Regions from separate parts of the Homo sapiens genome. Here region 2 is linked to region 1. A link means that fine-mapping ties the variant in region 1 to the expression of a gene that starts in the linked region. Tissue or cell type: thyroid. Region 1 holds a variant in brackets; the other region holds the start of a gene. All regions are shown on one strand. Distances are between the middles of the regions.

Evidence for each region. PIP is the estimated chance that this variant, and not a neighbour inherited with it, causes the effect.
Region 2: TENM3 starts here. The variant in region 1 is fine-mapped to the expression of TENM3 in thyroid (GTEx, PIP 0.99).

The regions. Positions count from the first base shown.
Region 1 is chr4:182,504,678-182,515,491 of GRCh38, forward strand. The region is part of intron 3 of TENM3 (teneurin transmembrane protein 3); the gene reads left to right. Among named protein-coding and RNA genes, the nearest start is that of TENM3, 270 kb to the left of the region's middle. The variant T/C (reference allele first, on the strand shown) is at 5,050.
Region 2 is chr4:182,237,495-182,248,308 of GRCh38, forward strand. TENM3 (teneurin transmembrane protein 3) reads left to right here and starts at 5,908. Exons shown (of 28, transcript NM_001080477.4): 1 at 5,908-5,982.

The DNA of each region.
Region 1 (10,814 bases):
GTTCGTAATTTGTATTCAAAGACCTGTTTGCTATTTTTGGCATGGCTTCCAACCTCATAAATGCAAAAAGCAGCTCCACTTCTTATAGCAATATGCCAGCCTGGTCTGTCAACTACAGTTATTTCCCATCAGTTATTCATAGTCTTAGACTTTGTTTCAGTAAATTGTTCTGCATTGTTTACTGCCCTCACTACTTATTATCTCCCCAGCCCAGGTCATAATACAACAGATACTTGGGTATCATGATGTTATATATTCTTTTCCAACTCAGCATGGTGATATTGGGAGGGTGATCTTATTCCTGTTTTTCATATGGGAGATTGATGAAACTTGTTTTTCATTTTTTATTACATCATAATACTTATTTGCTGACAAACTCATCAGGACTCTGAGGGAGCCATAAATTTGTATCAGTATAATCAATATTGATGGAAACACTTTGAAACTCCTCCTGTAGAATTAGAGTCAGCTTACAAGCCACATTACAATGGTCTTATGATTATATACCAGACTCTTAGTTCTATGTTAATTTAGTATGAATGTCTATATACCCTAGCATTTTTTTACTCCAAATAATGTTTATTTCCCAAAATAAATTTCATTCTGCAAAGATGAAAATCTGTATCACACCTAAAATTGTGCAATACAGATCTTAAAACTGCCAGATAGCATTCCAAAGTGCTTACTTTGGAAGGAAAATAATTAAATGTCTAAATTATTATACATTTTTTTAAAGATTTCTTTATTGCTGTAATTCTTACTGCTTCCTCTGCTTTTCCTTTTATTTTATTTTATTTTACTATTACTATTATTTTTTTGAGACAGAGTTTCACCCTTATTGCCCAGGCTGGAGTGCAATGGCGCAACCTCAGCTCACTGCAACCTCCACCTCCCAGGTTCAAGCGATTCTCCTGCCTCAGCCTCCCGAGTAGCTGGGATTACAGGCACCCACTACCACGCCCGGCTATTTTTTTTTATTTTCAGTAGAGACGGGGTTTCACCATGTTGGCCAGGCTGGTCTCAAACTCTTGGCCTTCCAAGGTGCTGGGATTACAGGCGTGAGCCACCACACCCGGCCTGCTTTTCTTTTTCAAACCCAAATCTTAGATTCAGTTTCCTCATGACATTGTCACCACCTTGATATAAATCATTCCTTTGTTGACATTGTCATCATGTGCTTACTGAAACATGCCCTACATAACAAGGTAGAAAGAGACAGGCTTCGGATTTCTTCCTGTTAAAGCAAAGCATTAATTTTCTCTAAGGAAAGGTAGATGTTGAGTGTGAAATAAACTTAAAAGAGGATGCATCACATATAAAATCCCAGAATGTTACAAGTGGAGGGGACCTAAGATGATTGCAAATAAAGATAAATGCAACAGCTGTGGTCTAGAAGGAGGCACAAATTATTAAGAGCTCAGCAAGACGGAGTCAAGGAAAAATTCTGACTGAGCATGAACAGTGTGTTGCTTAATAGTTACTTACCATCGGCTTCACTTTAGCCCTGTGCATATGACCCCGAAACCATGTTTATAATGTGTAAGCCCCTTTGATTGTTTTTGTTTTTGTTCTGAAGACGCTTGCTACTTTTGAAATGTTTTCCATATTTAGAGATAATACGGTGTGGTCGAAAGAGGGCATATTTTGGAGTCAGAAAACTTGAAGTTCAATCTTGTCATTACCTTAAGCTAAATTTCTCCATCTGTAAAATGGGAGTAGTAACATTTAAATAACGATTAAATAATAAGGAGAAGTAACGTAGGAAGAGATTCAAGCACTGGCCTGGCACATGGTGCTTAAAAAGTGTCTTGCTCTTTCTCTCTCCCTTCTTTATTATTTAATAAAATTTGTCTGGTATGTGTATTATAATTTGTACATCTTGATCTTATATACTGTATTAAAATTAAAAAATAGTCAAAAGCTGAATGCCTGGTCTCAAATATTTTAAATTCTGGTTGGGATGTAACATAAGTACATGTACTCCAAATATATTTACAGAGTAGGTTTTATTAAATGAACTAATAGATATTGTACATAAAAGATTAAAGTGAAAGAATGATCAGGTTGTAAGGAGTATGGAGTAGGTGAACTTGGCGCTGTATACGAAAACCTTCCATGGAAGAGCTCGAGACATCTTTTTGAACTTCCTTAACTCTGTTTTGATAGTACTTAAACGGTCAATTCGATGGTTCTTCATACCTTAAAGATCACTGGCCTTTATTATCCTGATAGTAGTGAATATAAGCATGTTAAGGTTATCTTATCTGTGTTTAATCTTCATAGGCACATACTATGGAACATCTTTATCTGTCATATTCATGATCCGTGAAGCCTCTTTTGAAGTCAGGTTGCATACTGCAAAAAAGTAGAGCTCTAAAGTAGGTCACAGTCCTAAGAGAGACACTGGAATCAACATCTGAAATTGAAAAGCTATTCTCCATTCGTATTAAGTTTTTAGGTTATCACTAAGGAAAAAAAAAGCACACTAAAATTAGATGAAGTAAAAGAAGCCCGAGTTATTCAAAATGTAAAGACCTTAGAATGAATGCTAACATTTTTCTTTTGCCCTTTTTCTTCCATCATTATGTCTAAAGATTGAAGTTAGTCTAAATAACATTAGGTCCCATAATCTCTGAGAATTTACCAGCTTTACTGTTTTCTTTTTCTTTCTGTTCCAAGTACATCTGCCCTTATGCCATTACTCTTGTCAGAAACTCATTGCCAAGTGTCTTTAAAAATCAGTTACTGTGGAGTTACCTATTTCAAAACAGAACTAACCCCTCAGTTTGATTTTTCAGGAGTCATTCTTTCATAGGCAATTCCGTCAGAATTTTTTTTATATAAATCAGTGTGAAAGCATTGGATTTTCTTAATACAGTCTTGTCCAGGAAGCTGTTAAAGCTTTTTCCCCATTGAAGAGAGAACACTAAATTGTCAGTATGTACTCATTCTATGGGAGAAGTTTTGAAAGCAGAGGTTTATAAATTTTCAACTTAGAGAACGAGATTCTTTGCAAAAGATTTGGTCAAATATCTGGAAGTCTTCCACTTTTGAAATACAGGGCTTCCAAACACATTTCTTCAAATGTCTTCTATATAGTTACTGTCTTTTATTTTGGCAAGTTATGCCAAAGAGACGAAATAGATCTTAGAGACCTTAGAATATTAATATCCTTAGGTTACATTCTTATAGAGTATCCACTAATTATTTCACATACTTAAGTGATGAATATATTAGTATCTTAAATTCTAGTTTGGTCATAGAGATTTGTGCTTTCATGGGTCCTGGAGCAGATGGTTGCTGTCCCCCGAGTGGTTCATACTCAGGCTCTGGTATCAGGTTTCCTGGGATGGAATCCTAGTTCTGTCACTAACTAACTGGGTGGACTGAAACAGTTCATTTAACCCTGATAGGCCTCGTCTTTGTAAAATGGGGATAAATACTACCTATCTTGTTGAGCTGTTATAAGGATGAGACATACCACATGTAATATTGACAATGCCTGGCTCACAGTAAATGCTCCATAAATGTTAGCCATCATTATTGTTGTTATTGATGATGGTTTTTGGAAGGCTCACTTGAATTTTCTCAGTTATAAATATTGTGTAGGGCAAGGTCTGTGAACCTTGGTTTCATTAAAGTAACTATTCCTATAAGAGTATGCTCCGCTGTGATTATGGTTGTATAAATCTCATTTGGCAATTGAGTACCAATAATACGATAGTCATAGATTAGGTATAACTATCTAAATTGAACTGCTGTCAACAACTACTGAAAGAGCATTTTGCAATAATTATCACTATCATCATTATTTCAACTTCATGAAATCCATGAAATATTTATCTTTCCTTATATCTAATCAGAATGATATACTCTTAGATATCACATAGGTGAGTAATAAATGATAGAATGGGGTCCCTTTCTTCTGATAGATGCATATTAGTATATTCTGATATAATGATATGCAGGGTACTAATTAGTGTGCAATTAACTGTCAGACTTTGTGCAATTGAGTGAGAAAGATTTTGTGCAGTTAAATAAATGATGAAATGGGTCCTTTCTTCTTTCCTTTGAATCACAGTGACAACCTAACTTAGACTTTCAATTAAGCTTTCCAGCTTCCTACCTGTGTTCTTGTATTGGTTTCTTAGGCAGGAATATTTTCTCTGCATGGACAGAAACAGTTGATAAACTCAACTCCAACAGAGAAATAAATTACATGCCAGCTATAATGAGATATGAACGTCCAGTAAATTTTCTTTTGCATGTAAAAATGTGGCAGTATGAAGTAAGAGTCAATAATTATTTATTGTTAATTCCCTAATGTTTGCTTCTGATGCACATGTAAATTGTGATGTGACTAAATTGAATGGAATTATCCGTTATTTTTAACATATTCACTCTAATGCACATGGATGAAAATGACTGTGATAATCTAGCAGGGATCCTTTGTGTTTTGGTGAAGCATGTAGGTCCGCATCCTGCAGTCTAGTATAAATGGATTTCAAACCGAATTTAATGAAAATTACCTTTGCTGACAGTGAGCCTGAGACACAGATGGTCACTGTATCCTCAGATGTGTTTAACTCCATTTCAGTGGGGCCACCTTTGTTGTTTATAACTTCTAGGTATAGATTCTTGTGGGAGTTCCAAGATTTGTTTTAAGCAGTTTTTCCTTTCTTAACAAAAATAGTAAGCACCATATAATGCTTGCTTCGTTTCAGTGATATTTTTTCATTCTTCACTCTCTCTTGCACATTTATTTGATGCTCAAGTGATGATATACAAATCACTGAGAATATTATTTCCTAGTTTTCTGGAATATTAGAAGGACAATATTACATAGAATTTTACTTTCACATATATAATTATTTCAATAATGTTGCCAGAAGAATTGAGTATCTCTTCTGAACAAATGCCGTGTCTAAGAACAAGAAGGATAGAATTAAATCAATGAGGGGATGGAAAGTAAAAAATGGGTCAGACGCAGTGGCTCACACCTGTAATCCCAGCACTTTGGGAGGCCAAGACAGGCGGATCACCTGAAGT[T/C]GGGAGTTCAAGACCAGCCTGACCAACATAGAGAAACCCCATCTCTACTAAAAATACAAAACTAGCTGGGGGTGGTGGCGCATGCCTGTAATCCCAGCTACTTGGGAGGCTGAGGCAAAAGAATCACTTGAACCCAGGAGGCAGAGGTTGCCATGAGCCGAGACTGCGCCATTGCACTCCAACCTGGACAACAAGAGCAAAACTCTGTCTCAAAAAAAAAAAAAAAAAAAAATGTAGGGAGATACAGGTATATTGTTTGTAATTCAGATCTAAGATTATTTCTGAACCTGAACCAGAAGATAGACATTTGAAACAGAAATTCACACTGTCAGTTAAGATCTTAGTTGTGTTTTTGCCAAATACTGTAAGATTAAAACAAATTCTCCACCAAGTTTTAGCCTCCAGTTTACTGCTACCACCATAGTTCAGTCCCTTCAGTTGGATTATTTTTGTTTTGTTTTCTAATAAAATGGCCAGATTAATCTAGTTTACATTGCTTTATCAATCACTGTGTTTCTTAGAAAACTACAAAAGTATCCTCATTTCCTCTCCATCAGTACTACCTGTTTTCTTCTGCGCAAGCCTTTTTTGCTCTAGCTCGCCTCTAGCCCTCTAGCCTTATTTTCTCTACTCTGAAGACAAACCCCTTGGCTTTGGTTAGCTCCTTTACAATGTGATTATGTCATGTCCCACTTGCCTAAAAGACTTCTCACTATAATCCTTAGTTTTGAAATCCTCTTTATCTTTTAAGGGTTAACCTCTAGAATTGATTAATTTTCTAGTTATTCCAGTTCTGATTGGCAATTCTATGCTGTTAAGTTCTCTTATACATACATGTAGCATTTAATTATATTATGGATAATGTGAATCTTACAATCAATGACATTTCCCTATTTGTCCTTACCACTAGGAAGTGCAGGGCTGAGTTATCGGCCAGTCTTTAGTTACTGTAGAGAATCTTCGACATGTATTTCTGCCTATGAACTTCCCCTATAGCATTGTCTTAACCATAAAGCTTCTTTTTTGCAACATTTTTTTCTAATGTTATAATCTTATTATATATTCTATCTTCTTGTAAGCCACATCAAATCCTTATTAGGAGAGGCAGTCTTCCATGGGATCTGAGCGCATCCTGCACACCCTTGCTGGCCTTGCCAAAAATGTAAGTCCCTGACTGCTCTTTACCCAGGAGATTTCTCAGGATGGTTTGTAGCAAGAAACCTTGAGAGATGAGGCATTAGCCAAGAGCAGGCTTGTTACTACTTACTGTCAAACAGTGGATTCCCCAAGCTCAGTGTTCCTCAGCTGTGACAAGCCCATTGTGTGCATAGCATCCATTTGGGCCTGCCAGAGTTGGGGAACAAAGGGACCAACGTACAATCCAATACTCATGCTGCTTGCTGTGCTATGCCATGAGTTTTTGCCCCTTACCCAGGAGTTTTGTGTCACCATTTATGACAGCAGGAGGCTGTAGTAGGCTGTAATTAGGATAAAATCAAATACTATACTAATACTCATTTATGGAAGATAGAAACTGTTCCATAAATTAATAAAAATAAACGTGTTTTGAGCCTTTCAAACCAACCCACTGTGCATATCACTATCCTGAACATGCTGAACATGTAATTAGATGTCAGTGTATACTTATTATGCTTTGAAGAACTTAGCTTTTATGGAATCATGGCAGCTGCAAGAGTAATTAAATTGATAATTTCTTGGAATTATGTTGAGAAGACTTAAGATATTAAAACTGGCTGGATTTGTCTGCTTCAACTAAAAAGATGAATAGAGAATATGTTTAACTTCACCTTGCCTCTGAGAGGTTTCTGAAGAGAACTTCAGTGTAAAATTTAGTGTCTTATTTAGTTATCTACCTTAGTCTGTGTTCTCTCTCCTTTCATCAGTTGTGTTGCTTTTTTCCATTTTTAAATTTCATTCTCACTGGAATTTTGAGAATGTAGCATTTGTAAATGTGAAGAAAAATCAGTAACATAATTTTCAATTTGTTTAGGTTTTTTAAAACTATGGCCTTAAAAGATAAAATTAGGATCATATAAATAAATGACATATGACCTCTGAAGGACTGGGTAGAAAAAAATTAATATTTATTGATTAACTAGCAAGTGCTAAGTTCTTTTAAGGTGCTTTACATGTATTATATCATTAAATCTGCCAATAATCTAAGAGTTAAGTATTATTAAAAGAATAAACTAGACTATTAGAAAATGACACTAATTAGATTTAGGTAACTAGCCCAAGTTCATACTGTAAGTAGCAAAAGAAGACTCTACCCAGGTAGATCAGACATTCTCATCAAAGGCATGGTTCTTAACCAGGAACTCTCATCTCCTGGGATAGTGAAAGTAAAGGAGGATGTGGAAGAGACTATTTCATATTACCAGAACCTATTTTTCTGTCTTCCTTGATAAGGCTACATTTCCCAGCCCTCCCCACTCCCTTGCACGTAGGTATGGACATGTGGCTAGTTCTCTACAATGGAATGTGAATGGAAGTGAGGTACCAGGCCGAAAATGGGCCTTCTCCATGGTCTCTTTTTATTTGCTAAACGGTAAAAGCAAAGGACCTCAGGGACCGTAGAAGATGACAGAGTCACCAGATGGGAAGAGCCCACGTCTGAGTTACCACGTGGAAAGTTGTCCCATTGAACACCAGCATTAGACTAAGGTTAGAATGAGAAAGAAAAGCTTTTGTCATGTTACATCACTAATATTTCAGGGTTTATTTATTAAAACAGCTCACATTACCTTACCAAAATAGATGGGTATGATCAAATGTCACTACTAGGAGCATTAGAGGATTTTAAATATTTGATGAAATCATTATGACATTAGTTATTTTTGAGACTTCTAAAACATTTGATTATTACCTTGAATATATGAACGAAAAGTATTGTAATTGCTTTATAAGAAGAAAAAACACTCTGAAAATAAGAGCATATTGGGAGTGATATCCAGATAGTCGTGACCTGGTCCTTGAACTGCCTCTGTTTAATCTGGGGCAAATGACTTAATCCCTCTGAGCCTCCCTCTCCTAATGTGTAACATGAAACAATCTAACCTCTTTAGGGTGGCAGTAAAATTGCTATAGGCTAAGAGTATACAGAAACACAGTAGTTTGTATACTCCTTGAAGATCAAAATAGTGTCCAGTTTATACGTCTATACTGGTACTGTTTTAGCACATAAGAAGTGTCAGTAAATATTGAATGAATTTTTGGTGGAATAGGACATGATATCCTTTTAGAAAACGTTTTGGCATTTTGAGTCAAAAGCCATAAATATATATATTCTTGTTGTCCCAGTATTAATGCTTAGGATATTTATGAATAATCCATGGGAAGGAAGAAGTGAGGATAGGATAGGGTTGCAGAAGCCTCATTTCAACCTTTGGAAATAGTCTCAGTGTTTAACTACAGTGGAGTAATTTGGTAAATTTTCATAAACTTCACTTGCTGCAAAGTTTTCCTGCTATTAAAAGGCAAGTAAGAAAAACCATATTCGTACGGTGAAAGTTTATACTAGAAAACTATCAGAAGCATAAAATACAAAACAGCTACATCTTTACTAAAAGCCTGGAAAAATTAAATGTATACTCAGTAAAGAATTAGAAGGAAACATACATAGAAAATGGAAAACAGTTTGATATATTAGTGATAGGATTATGGAATTATTTTTTTCTTTCAGTTGCATTTGCAAACAAGATGGGAGAAGAAGCTGGAAAAGAACATAGGCTACCTATTTAAAGATCCTGAATGAAAAAAAAAAAAACCTTTGTGTTTCATTTTGTAAGGTTTTTAAAAAATAGATCTGGGATTAAATCTGGCTTTTAGAAAGATAATTTGTAGTAAGAGAGTTAGTAATAGGGAGATGGATTAGAATATTACTGCAATAATTCAGGTGACAGATGTGGAGGAACTGTGTTTCTTATTTCCTGCGTTTTGTTGCTGTGACATCTGGGGCCTTGCTGACCCTGGAGGGACTGCCCCTCCTAGTGTTTGCCAGTTCTAGAGATAATAAATAACTCGCCCACAAGTGCACTTTTCCAAAACAAATGAATCAACCCAGAGCGCACACCTCAACCATCTCCTTTAGTGGGCTTTCACACTCTGGTCCATTATCCACCTGCCCTGATCACCCCAGGGCCAGGTACAGAGAGCTCTTGTGCCTCAGAGCCAATTGAAAATATCTAAACTACCAATCCTAATGCTTTTTACTCTGTTTTGCCCATTTCTTCCCAAGGAAACCACAATAAAGGCTTGTTTAGGGTTTCCCCTCTCTCCCTCTGCCTCCTAACCAACCCTGATGCTTCTTTTTGTGGCCCTGTTGGGGCGGCATGCCCCCTCCTCTTGGGAACCGTGAGTAACAAGCTGTATTGTCAGTGGCAGTCACCTTCTACTCTGCTGGCCTTACTACACCTCAGAGCTTCCACTAGTACACTATATTTTTAAACTAAATGTTGTGCGCCTAAATGAAAGCAGTGAAAATGGGGATGAGGAGAAACATTCAGAGATGTGTAGGAGTGAGAATTACAGGTTTTTGATGGTGTTAGGATATGAAGAGTAGGGAAATGGAAGGAGCAGATGACTACTGACAGATTTCTAGCTTGACAGTATTAACTGTGAGAAAACAGACTAAGAAAAAGAGGTTTCAAAGGGGAAAGATAATAAATTCGATTTGGAACCTGCAGAGTTTAGGTGCCTGAAAGACATCCATGTAGAAATATCTAGTGAGCAGTTATGAAGATGTGTCCTGAACAGTGGTTTTGAAACTTTTATGACTATGAAACACAGCAACAAGTCCATTTTACATCCGGCCCTATATGAAGATATGATTTCATATTTCACAGAACAATACGCCTTTCTTAGTGTGATGTAGTCTGATAGTTTCTGTCTGTGCCATTCATTTTGTTTCATTTTTTGTGTGTGCTGTAAGCCACTAAATTGAGTTCATGAACTACTAAAAGGGCACAACTCACTCTTTGGAAAACACTGATCTGGAGCATTAAAAAAAAACTCAGACTTGGAGAGATTTAGAAGTCATAAATATACAGATGTTAGTTTAAGCTATGGGATATTTTCTAGGGGCTGAGATGCAGATCAAGAAAATTGCCCAGATTATTGCTCCATAGAATACCAAGCATTTAAAATTTTTAAAGCTTACAGAGAGAGAGGAAGCAGCAAGAGAGAGTGAGAAACAATAGTACATCCTAATAGTAGACTCAGTCAATTAATATTGAGAAACCAAGAAAGGAGAACATTTCAAAGAGGGAATAATCAGCAGTGTCAAATGCCAATAATGCACAATAATTTTTTATCCAGACTAAGAAGACAATTTATCATTTAAGCCGTCACTGATGATAAGTGAAAAAGCAATTTCAGTAGTGTTCTGGGGGAGAATAGGTTGCAATGGGTGGGAAAAATGAATCGGAAGTGAGGAAAGTGAGGCAAAGAAGTTAGACTGCTTTTTCAGAGAGTTTGGCCTTAAAGGGAAAATATATTGATGTGGGTGACAGTCACTAAGTGAGGCGCAGAAAAAATCCAAGTGAAAACTTTGGAACAGGGTGGTTTGTCAAGGATGCATGTTAAAGACAGAATAATTGTTTGCTGAATTTTTTTGAAAAAAATAGATGAGAGTGATGAACAGGTGGAAAAACAGTAGGAACAATTAAAATAAGATTACAGCCATTTCAGTTATTTAGCTTAGAAATGGACAGCCTAGAAACTGATAGCAAGAATCATCTAATAAC
Region 2 (10,814 bases), 270 kb before region 1:
AGCTGAGACTACAGGCACCCATCATGCCTGGCTACGTCTGTAATCCCAGCACTTTGAGAGGCCGAGGCGGGCAGATCACCTGAGGTCAGGAGTTCAAGTCTAGAGATTCTTATAGCATCCTTTAGCCAAAATTCATTCGGAATTCTGGATCTTTTGGGGTCTTAGAAAAGTAATGTCGTGGCCGTATTGTCTGTTACACAGCAAAGTTAAGTCTGAGGCCATACCTGGCAATTAAACATGTTAACATTTCTTCCATAAAACTCATGAATATTCAAACTTATGGAGATAAAGAGGATAAGTCAGTACAGGTTAAGTTTTGTCACCAAATATATTTTCTTCATTCTGTTTTTATTGCTTTCTGCTTTCTGGGTTTTAGGATACATATAAGAGATTGTGGACCTGTAAAAGAATCCCAAAGGAATTTTGGAAAATTTTCAAGTCCAGCCTATGATATTTAGGCCAAGAAATGGCAAATATGTCTAGAAATAATAGCTACCACAACCAAAATATATAGGTTTCTTTTTTGTTTTCCATACACTAAGACTACAGGTGGCTTGGTTGACAGTGTTACTTTTAAATAAGATGAGACAATGAATAAATGAAGGAGTGAATGAATGTCAGGGTGAAGAAACAGTCTCAGGGTCTCATAAATAATGCCCTTCCCTTCCTCGTGTCTTGGCTGCTTTAGCCTCAGGATATGTGAGTCTGGGGTCGTCGGAAGCCTGGATCCTCCTCCAGCCATACTGCAACTGTCTATCAAAATGACTTCCCAAAAGTTTTCCAACAACTGAGTCATGGAGGAAGAGCTTTAAGAACTAAAACAAATAAAGCTCATTCCTTCCCCAAGGCCTTTGTAATTATTCTTCTCTCTGACCAGAACGTTTTCCCCCATGGCTGATTCCTTATCATCTTTTGGATCTCAGGCCAAATGCAACGCCCAGGGGAACCTGCCCTATCCACCCAGCCTCTATGCCCTTACTCTGCTGTGTGTCCTCATCACCCTCTGAAATTCTTGTGTTCACTCCCTTTTGATCGGAATCCTTCACTAGCAGGGGTGCTCTATTAGGGCAGAGCCTTTTTGTTCCGAGATGAGTCTCTTAGGACCTGGGGCAGTGACGGGCAGACAGCACTCAGTAAGTATGTATTGGGTGAATAAATAAGTGAAGGAATGTTTCCCTGACTGTCGGTGCTCAGTGAAGAGCTGACCTGTGCCTACGGACTGAATCATCTTTTCATTTGTAACTTTTAACTATTGTAATTCTAGATAATGGTGATGACTGTATTGTGAAAATTATTAAAAGTTTTATAAAAATACAAACACAAGTACCTTTTCTCCCTCTCTTTTTTAATTCAGTTACCTACCGCGGTGACTCATTCATACTAACATCTGAGTCTGTGTCAGAAACAAGCAAGAGAAAACAGAGGCAGAGATAAAGGACTGATATTATAATTTTTGAACAGCTCTTTCTTCTAGATAAATGTTCTTTATATAAAAAATAAAATCTCCCCAAGAATATTCTTAGACTTTAAAAATCTTTATGTGTGTGTGTGTGTGTGTGTGTGTGTGTGTGTGTGTGTGTATTTTTTTTTTTCTTTTTTTGAGACGGCGTCTCGCTGTGTCTCCCAGGCTGGAGTGCAATGGCACGATCTCGACTCACTGTAACCTCCGCCTCCTGAGTTCAAGTGATTCTCCTGTCTTAGCCTCCCGAGTAGCTGGGATTACAGGCGCCTGCCACCATATCTGCCTAATTTTTTGTATTTTTAGTAAAGATGAGGTTTCACCATGTTGGCCAGGCTGGTCTTGAATTATTGACCTCAAATGATCTGCCTGCCTCACCCTCCCAAAAGTACTGGGATTACAGGCATGAGCCACCGCGCCCGGCCAAAAATCTTGCTTATAGTCCCTTACAATATTGAAACTATTGCTTCTGCTCCTTTCATTGCTTAATTTATTGAATTCTTTCCATTATTAGTAAAATATATTTTGTTTCTAAAAGCTGGCAAGAAACTTACTAAAATACTACAGTCTAACATTTAGCATGCTGCAAAAACTTTGACATTGTCATACAAATAAGTGGATTCTTCAAGAGTTCAGGTTATCTTGCAGGAAAAAGATGATTTAGTTTTATAGAGTTTCCTTCTTGAAAGAGGTCTAGTTAGAAAAGATTTCAAACCAAATAGGGGCGGAGACAGGGTAGGGAGAAAATACCACTATGGATACTTCAAATGAAATAAGAAGGAAGGACAATAATATCTAATATTTGTTGCTTATAGTAATACTGTATCCCAAATAATCGCAAAAAAAGCTTTACTGGAAAAAAATCATTACACCTATCTGATTATAAAGAAGAAACAAAAATTGATTAGTAGTTTGCTATTTTCAAAGTGTAAAAATAGGGTAATTAATGCTAGATCATTTGACACTTTGGTTTTCTAAAATTAAACTTCTCAGAGAAATAGATTCAGGAAGAAATTTCACAAAACAACATTAATTAAAATGGCTGGGAAAAAAACAATACTGTAATAACAGTTGTAGAGTAGTGAAACTGGGGGAAAGTTAAGCAGCATTTTTTGCTTTGCTGATGACTGCAGTGGGGGAACTTCTATGGGGAGAAAAAGTGGATATTGGCTGTTGCCTTAATTAAACTCATGATTTATGAAGACCCTGGTTAGCCACAGCCACCCGGATATTTCAGAGCGAGAGTCAGAGCCTATTTAGTCTGTCACTGACTCTGAGTTTGGGAACCATAAATAGGCCTGCTTGTGTTGGGCTTGTCTTGTCATGGACGTCCACTGAGATCAACGGAATGCCAGAAGTGACCCAGCAAGTAGGAGAGAGACACGTTCCTACGAGAGACACAGAAGAGCGCTCCCCACATTCTTTAAATATTTTCTCCCGGCTATCATCATAACCTCTGTCTTATCGGGATTAATCTTTTTCTGGCTCACTTTGATCCCAGTCCCCTGTTAGGCTCCTCAGATGCTGAATACGTTGTGAAACTGTGGTGTCAGGATTAGAGATAAAAGGGGAGATGTAGACCATGTGTCATCAGCATGCTGATCTCAGAGTGAAAATGCCTGACTTTTCTTCAAGTTATCTTGCGTGCACTTTGAGCATGTGGGTGATTACCATCAGAGCCTGGCAATTCTCCCTGCGAGTCCCGGCCCTGCAGCCCACGAGAGCAGGGAAAGGCAGGATCTAGCAGGGTGTTCCTCATGGTGCCATTCCCCATGGACACAGCCTGGGAGGTCTTCTGTCCACCCAGAGAGCCTGGAGCAGGGAGACAGTAAGGGCCTGGGATGGAATGCAGCTCCAGAGGCTGCTGTTTTGCCTGTTTGTCATAGGATTACTGTATTACAGGGCTTTGAGACCAGCCTGCTATGTCCCCTCAGATCTGGCCTCTGAGGCCCCTGGGCAGGATGGCATTTTCACTGCCTCTCTTTCCCGCTCCACTGACCTTCACTCAGTATTTCCTCCTTCTCTGAAGCCCGCTTCTCATCACCACCTACAGCCTCAAGGATGCCTGCTTGCATCTTTGAGGCTTTTGTCATCGGGCTTGAAGATTTTTTTCCACATGGTCCCCTTAATCTGCTCCCATTCTTGACAGTTTAACACTCGTGCTGAAATTTCATTCCTTGCAGAGTTGGGATTTTCATGTGAATCGTTATAGCTTCTCTCTGGTTTACCATTGGCTTCCCAGAGCTCAGCTTCTGGGCACTTAATAAATGTTCATTTAATCAATTACTATCCCAATACTTTGTTCTCTTGTAACAACAGTTTTCACCTCCATTTCTGACAATGCTTTCTTCTGATTCATTCAATAATGAGAGGTCAACACACATGTTCTCTGTTTTTCTCTAACAAAAAAGACATGCCTTCATCCCTTCTTCTGTTCAGTGGTGCCCCCTCTACCTGGGCCCTGTGTGGCATTCCCCTCTGCTTCCTCTGGATCCTTGGCTCCATTAATTTTTTTCCACATTCTCCTATCTTCAGTCGCTTCCTTTTCCCTTTCTTTTTTCTTTCTTTTTTTTTTTTTTTTTGTGAGGCGGAGTCTTACTCTGTTGCTCTGTTGCTATGCTGCGATCTTGGCTCACTGCAACCTCCGCCTCTCAGGTTCAGGCCTCCTGCCTCAGCCTCCTGAGTAGCTGGGACTACAGGCATGTGCCACCATGCCCAGCTAATTTTTGTATTTTTAGTAGAGACGGGTTTTCCCATGTTGGTCAGGCTGGTCTTGAACTCCTGACCTCGTGATCCACCTGCCTCGGCCTCCCAAAGTGCTGGGATTACAGGCATGAGCCACTGGGCCCGGCTTTCCTTTTCCCTTTCTTTTTCCAGACAGGTAAAATGCACAAGGCTTGACCGTTCTTTTAAAAACGCTTCTCCACTGAAATGACTCTCCGTGGTCACAAATAACCTCTTTATTCCTGAAGCCAGTGGACCCTTTTCAGTTTTGCTCTCATCTGTTTTCTCCACTGTCAGCCACATGCCTTTTCCACCAATTTGCCTTCTTTTTTTTTTTCCTCTCTCTTTTTTTTTTTTTATTTTACTTTAAGTTCTAGGGTACATGTGCACAAGGTGCAGGTTTGTTACATATATATACATGTGCACAAGGTGCAGGTTTGTTACATATATATACATGTGCCATGTTGGTGTGCTGCACCCAATAACTCGTCATTTACATTAGGTATATCTCCTAATGCTATCCCTCCCCACTTCCCCCACCCCATGACAGGCCCCGGTGTGTAATGTTCCCCTTCCTGTGTCCAAGTGTTCTCATTGTTCAGTTCCCACCTATGAGTGAGAACATGCGGTGTTTGTTTTTTTTTCCTTGCAATAGTTTGCTGAGAATGATGGTTTCCAGCTTCATCCACATCCCTACAAAGGACATGAACTCATCCTTTTTTATGACTGCATAGTATTCCATGGTGTATATGTGCCACATTTTCTTAATCCAGTCAATTTGCCTTCTTAAAACTTCTTGGTGGCCCAGCACGGTGGCTCATGCTTATAACCCCAGCCCTTTGGGAGGCTGAGGTGGGTGAATTGCTTGAGCCCAGGAGTTTGAGACCAGCCTGGGCAACATGGTGAAAACCCGTCTCTACAAAAAATACAAAAATTAACCCGATGTGGTGGCACTTGCCTGTGGTTCCAGCTACCTGGGAGACTGAGGTGGGAGAATCACCTGAGCCTGGGAAGTCGAGGTTGCATTGAGCTGAGATTGCGCCAGTGCACTCCAGCCTGGGTGACAGACTGAGGCCCTGTCTCAAACAATAAAACTTACTGGTTTTCCTGCCTGATTGCTTTCTCTGAACTGTACCCTAGATCTTCCTACCGTGGTGGTTCAGATGAGAGATGATGGTAGCCTGTATGTGGGTAGTGCTTATCAGAGATGGAAATAAAATTGACAAGAGTTGATAATGTATTAGAAGCGGAGGCTAAGAGAGAGGTAAGCAAGATAATCACTAGGTTTCTGACTTGCATAATTGGGCGGTGATGTCATTCACTGAGATTAGAAGCATTCCAGGGCGACTATGTGGTAGAGAGGCTACAATGAATTCAACTTTAGATGTATTGGAGATGTGTTTAGAATGTCTTAAGGGTAAATGTCACATAGGCTTTTATTTATTTATTTATTTGAGACAGAGTTTCGCTCTTGTCGCTCAGGCTGGAGTGCAGTTGGGTGATCTTGGCGCATTGAGACTTCCACCTCCCGGGTTCAAGCAATTCCCCTGCCTCAGCCTCCTGAGTAGCTGGGATTACAGGCATGCACCACCACGCCCAGATAATTTTTGTATTTTTAGTAGAGGCGGGGTTTCACCATGTTGGCCAGGCTGGTCATGATTTCCTGACCTCAAGTGATCCGCCCACCTCGGCCTCTCAAAGTGCTGTGATTACAGGCATGAGCCATCGCACCTGGCCATGAAGGCTTTTAGATGGGTCTGGAGCTTGGAGGAGAAGTCTGAACTAAGGATAAACTAAAGGTAAGTTGCTGAGTCATCTGTAGAGAGGTGGGAATTGAGGGCACGGATGAGACAGCCTAGAAGAAAAGGAGGAGAAGATGAGAAGAGAGTATCGAGGTATTGGAAACTGGGGAGGGCAGACAAGTCTAAAAAGGAGACTGGAAAAAAGTAGTTGAAGATGGAGAGGGCAAATCTGGGCAGTGTTGGGACACGGAAGCTGAGGAAAAGAGCAGTTCAAGATGCTTGAAATGAACACACCAAAAATACTGTGAACTATTCAGCACGTCCTTGTTTTATAAGTAAAATTCATAGTCACATCAGCGAAATAATTTTAAATGTATGTCTGTTGACTTAAATATTGGTTTTCTTTTGTGACTGAGGTTCCAGTACTTAGGAAAGGAAATGAAAGAGAGGCAGGGCACTCAGGGCTGACTGTCTTCTCAAAGTGCTAACTGATAGACTCTTCCAAGAATGGAATCATTTGTGTTTTCTTTTTTTTTTTTTTTTTTTTTTTTTGAGACGGAATCTCGCTCTGTCGCCCAGGCTGGAGTGCAGTGGCGTGACCTCGGCTCACTGCAAGCTCCGCCTCCCGGGTTCACGCCATTCTCCTGCCTCAGCCTCCCGAGTAGCTGGGACTACAGGCGCCCGCCACCACGCCCGGCTAATTTTTTGTATTTTTAGTAGAGACGGGGTTTCACCATTTTAGCCGGGATGGTCTCGATCTCCTGACCTCGTGATCCGCCCGCCTCGGCCTCCCAAAGTGCTGGGATTACAGGCGTGAGCCACCGCGCCCGGCCTCATTTGTGTTTTCTATTAAAACATATAACCCAGGGTATTAGACCACCATGGTGGTCACGGCGATCACAAAATATTTTTAACTGGTTTGCTGTGAGCTGATTTAGTGTTCTGAAATTTTATTATCTTGACTGGTAGAATTATTGGAACCAGCCATACATGTTAGAGTGATTGACAGCTACTTCTGATGAGGCTTTTATTGGATCTCAGGCAGCCTGCAAGTCACTGTCCTTTGCATTCAGATGCATTTATTTCCACAGCCTCCAGGGTAGCTAATGTTATTTTTCCTTCCCATTCCGAAATTTTAAGATGCCTCAGCTTTAGCCTGGCTCCTAAACTGATGGACAAGAGGAGAATATGAAGAGGAAGACGGGTCTCCTGGAATCCTCAGTTCCCAGGCTCTTCCCTCCAGTGGTCCAGGAACACTTTTGTCCCTGTCATAGATTTGTGTAATTCTCATGATGTGTAACATATGGAAAGAAAAACCAAGTTTTGTGTAGCCTAATAGATAGCTGTTTAGGAAACCATTCCAACTGTCCAGCTTTCTGAGAGTTTGCAAATATCACTTTACTTCTTACATTAATAGAGCCTCATGCAAATCAAATCATGTTGAACTTTATTAGCTATGCTTGATGTTATTTATGTTCTAATTAAATTAATGAGAATCTTGCATTTCTTCACAAAATTAAATTTCTAGAGTCTCTTTTTATTGTAATGTCTACATTCCATAATCAATGAATGCTTTTAATCCTCTGCAGTGATACTTTCTAGTGTTTTGGGAATGAAGCAAAGGCTTCAGAAACATTCAAAACAATCGAGTGTTAGGCTGTGCTATTGTTTGTTTAATGGGCAGAGGTCACTTGCTATGGGAATACTGAGGGTCTGCATGCTGGAATCATTCTCTTTTTGCCCAGGATGGGATCATTGGGTGAGTTTACTTAATCCATGGGCTTTGTTTCCCAAGACTGTGTCAGGGAACAAGACACAATTGTTTCCAGCCCCAGAGTCCTCTTGAGAGAGTGGCTCCAGCAACTTTGCTCTGTCTCATGTGATGTAGCATCCTCCGGCATCATTTAGAAAAGTGAAAGAGCAAGTAGAAAGGAATCTATCTGATCTTCATTTCTTTGCTGTTGTTGTTGATTTGTGTCACACATTGCTTCTCAGGTGGCCCCAAGAGTAAATCAGAAATTCCAATTGAGATTGCAAATTTTGTTTTAATTCTCTGTTGCTTTTCCAGCAATCAGTGCTTTCCTTTAAATTCTGTCTCGTCTCCTAAATGAAGGCAGCGTCGTGGCCCAGTTTGGGTCTCTGTTTAGCAACTGTGGTCTGTTTGAACTGAGGCAGTCCACATGTTACTTCCATTCTTTAGATTAATGTGATGACCGTAGTCCCTGCCAGAATCTTTTGGAACCAGTTATCCCAGGATATTGACATGTGACACGGCCATAGGACTGAAAACTTCCTCTCTTCCAGGGCCAGCCACAGGAGAGAGAAAGGGATTAAGAGGCTACTGTTGTGTCAATGCTGCAACTTGCTTTAGGACTCTGAGCTGGTTTCTTAACTTTTCCGTTGATGAGCAATAAAACCAGTAGAACAATAACTGCCTTCAGTGATTTTACAGATTTGTGTTAGTTAATAAATATAGGAATTTAGGGAAAGCTGTTTCTGATTTATATTTGATACCGATGTAACATTTTATTGGCGGGCGCTCCTGCTGGATCCTCACTCTGTGGTTAACAGTGACTCCTTTTCTGGTAGCACTCCCTGGCTCTGCAAGTCACGGGAAATAGCGTAAGAGCTCACTTGTCTCTTATGTTGAACAAACAGAGGCAGCAACCGCTATGGCAGAGGGTGGCACCTTCTGGCTATGTGTTTTCCTAAGTGGCCTGAAATGAAACTCCTAGAAGTTGTCTCATTGATAAAATGAATGCAATCTAGGTACCACTAATTATCTAACCCCGGGTCATCAGCAGGATTTACCACCACTGCCAGCAGCCCCAAGGCATAGGGGAAGAAAGAATTTTTTAAAAAGAAGTCATGGAAGCAACACAGAGAGAAAAACAAAGCAGCGCTTATGAATGAGATTCGCTATGAGCCCCCACCCCCGCCCCTCAGGAATAACATTTTAGATAAGCAGTGGACACGAAGCAGGCCCCGCTCTGAAAGAGCACAGGAGGTAGAAATGTCTTCCTTTTCTAGGATATAGATGGTGTGGGTATCAAAGCCATTGTTGACAGGAAGGAGGTGGTGTTGGATAAGAGACTAAAAATAGAGCCGGAGTAGTAGTTTGAATCCAGCAAACCAGCCCTCCTTCTAAAATTCTGCAGCACGATCCCATCACGTAAGAATGTGTCTCGTCCGTATGTGACAAAGACACGGTTTTATTGACCTTAAACAAATGGGCTATGTCTGCCAGAAAAGCTTGTGCCGTCTTGACTGTATTCATAAGAAATAGAGAGATATGAATCATGCCATGTAGGTTCCAGGGCGGGGGCGTTCCCTCCCTCTCGTCCTTCGCTTTGCCTTGCATTATTGCAGACGACAGCAGTGCAGGGATGAACTCACTTTCTAGGGAGGAAGCCGCCAGTAAATAACTAAACAAAGAAGATAAGTTCCGATAATCATCGCTGTTAAACTGAGACTAAAACGAGAGATGAGGTAGTGACTGGGAGTGGAGGGGAAGTTGATTGAGGTGGATCACGAGGGATGCCTCTCTGCGGAGGCGATGCCCACATCGAAGCTCTCAGGATGAGACGGAACCAGCCGTGTGGGCAGCTGTGGGAGGACGCAGAGATGGGCAAATGTAAAGATGCGAAGAACACCAGAAATGGTGTTTTTGAAGGACAGAAAAATATGAGTCGAGCTAGAATCTAATGAGCAAAGAGAAACGAGTTAGATGTGATTTTGGAAAGGGAAGGCAATGTGTTTCTCTGTGTGCTGATCAGTCCTGAGGTGCTGCAGCAAGAAATTGACATATAGAGGTGGATACCAGAATGGTGAGGAGTTTGGAAGAAAAACCCTATGAAGAGCGCAGTCGGAACTGGGGGTTGGTTGTCTTACGAAGAGAAGACTGGAGAGAGAGCCATGATAAATGTCTGATTATTTGAGATGTGATCTACTGGAAGCATTACACAGATGATGGTTCCATAGAGTGGCCCTCAGACCATTGAAAGGGGCCATGGCTAAGGCAGAACTCACCCGCCTTAGAAGGAAGCACTTTAACCCTTGACCTCATCCATCCAAAAATGGAACGAGCAGCTTCACAAAGCTGCGCTGTTAGTTTCTAGTCACAAAGTGTTGTTAGGCAAGGACAGCTTTAATTTACTAGATTTTAAGATTTTTCAGGCCAGTGACTTTGTTTTCTGTCCATGTTATATCTCTGGCAAGTACCTGCGGGTGGATGCTCAGTCAGTGTTTACTGAAATGACAAATAAGTAAATCGCAGTAGCAACTGGACCAAGGATGGCTCAGGCAACCTCTCAGATTATACCTAATTCTAGGATTTTATAATTCTGTGATATGAGTAAAAGCAGAATTATTTTCAATACTTAACAAAATTTTATTGGGAAAAATAAAGAACTGTGAACATTGGTGAGAAGTCTTAAAAATAACTTCCCAAACTCTAGCAAATGCACCCTCACCCTTTCCCTGCAAAGCTCCCCACGCAAACTCTTCTGTGTTTCCTAAGCCATGAAGTACAATAGTGCCATTGCTGTTTGTCAGTGACATAGAAAATATTATTTAACTTTATTTAATGGGGGATTTTCAGATAATTTGGACTTCAAATATGCAGTTTTGAAAGTTGATCTGAAATACATCACTTATAATTGCCTTTAGGCTTTTAAGCAAGCATATATGAAATACATTTCATTATTTTATTCACTATATTTCAGTTAAAATTTGCTTTTAAAATATAAAGTGCCTGGGTGCAGCAAACCACCACGGCACACGCATACCTGTGTAACAAACCTGCACGTTCTGCACATACATCCCAGAACTTACAGTATAATAAAAAAAATTTTAAATAAAAATAAAGTGTCACTAAAAAAGTATATCAA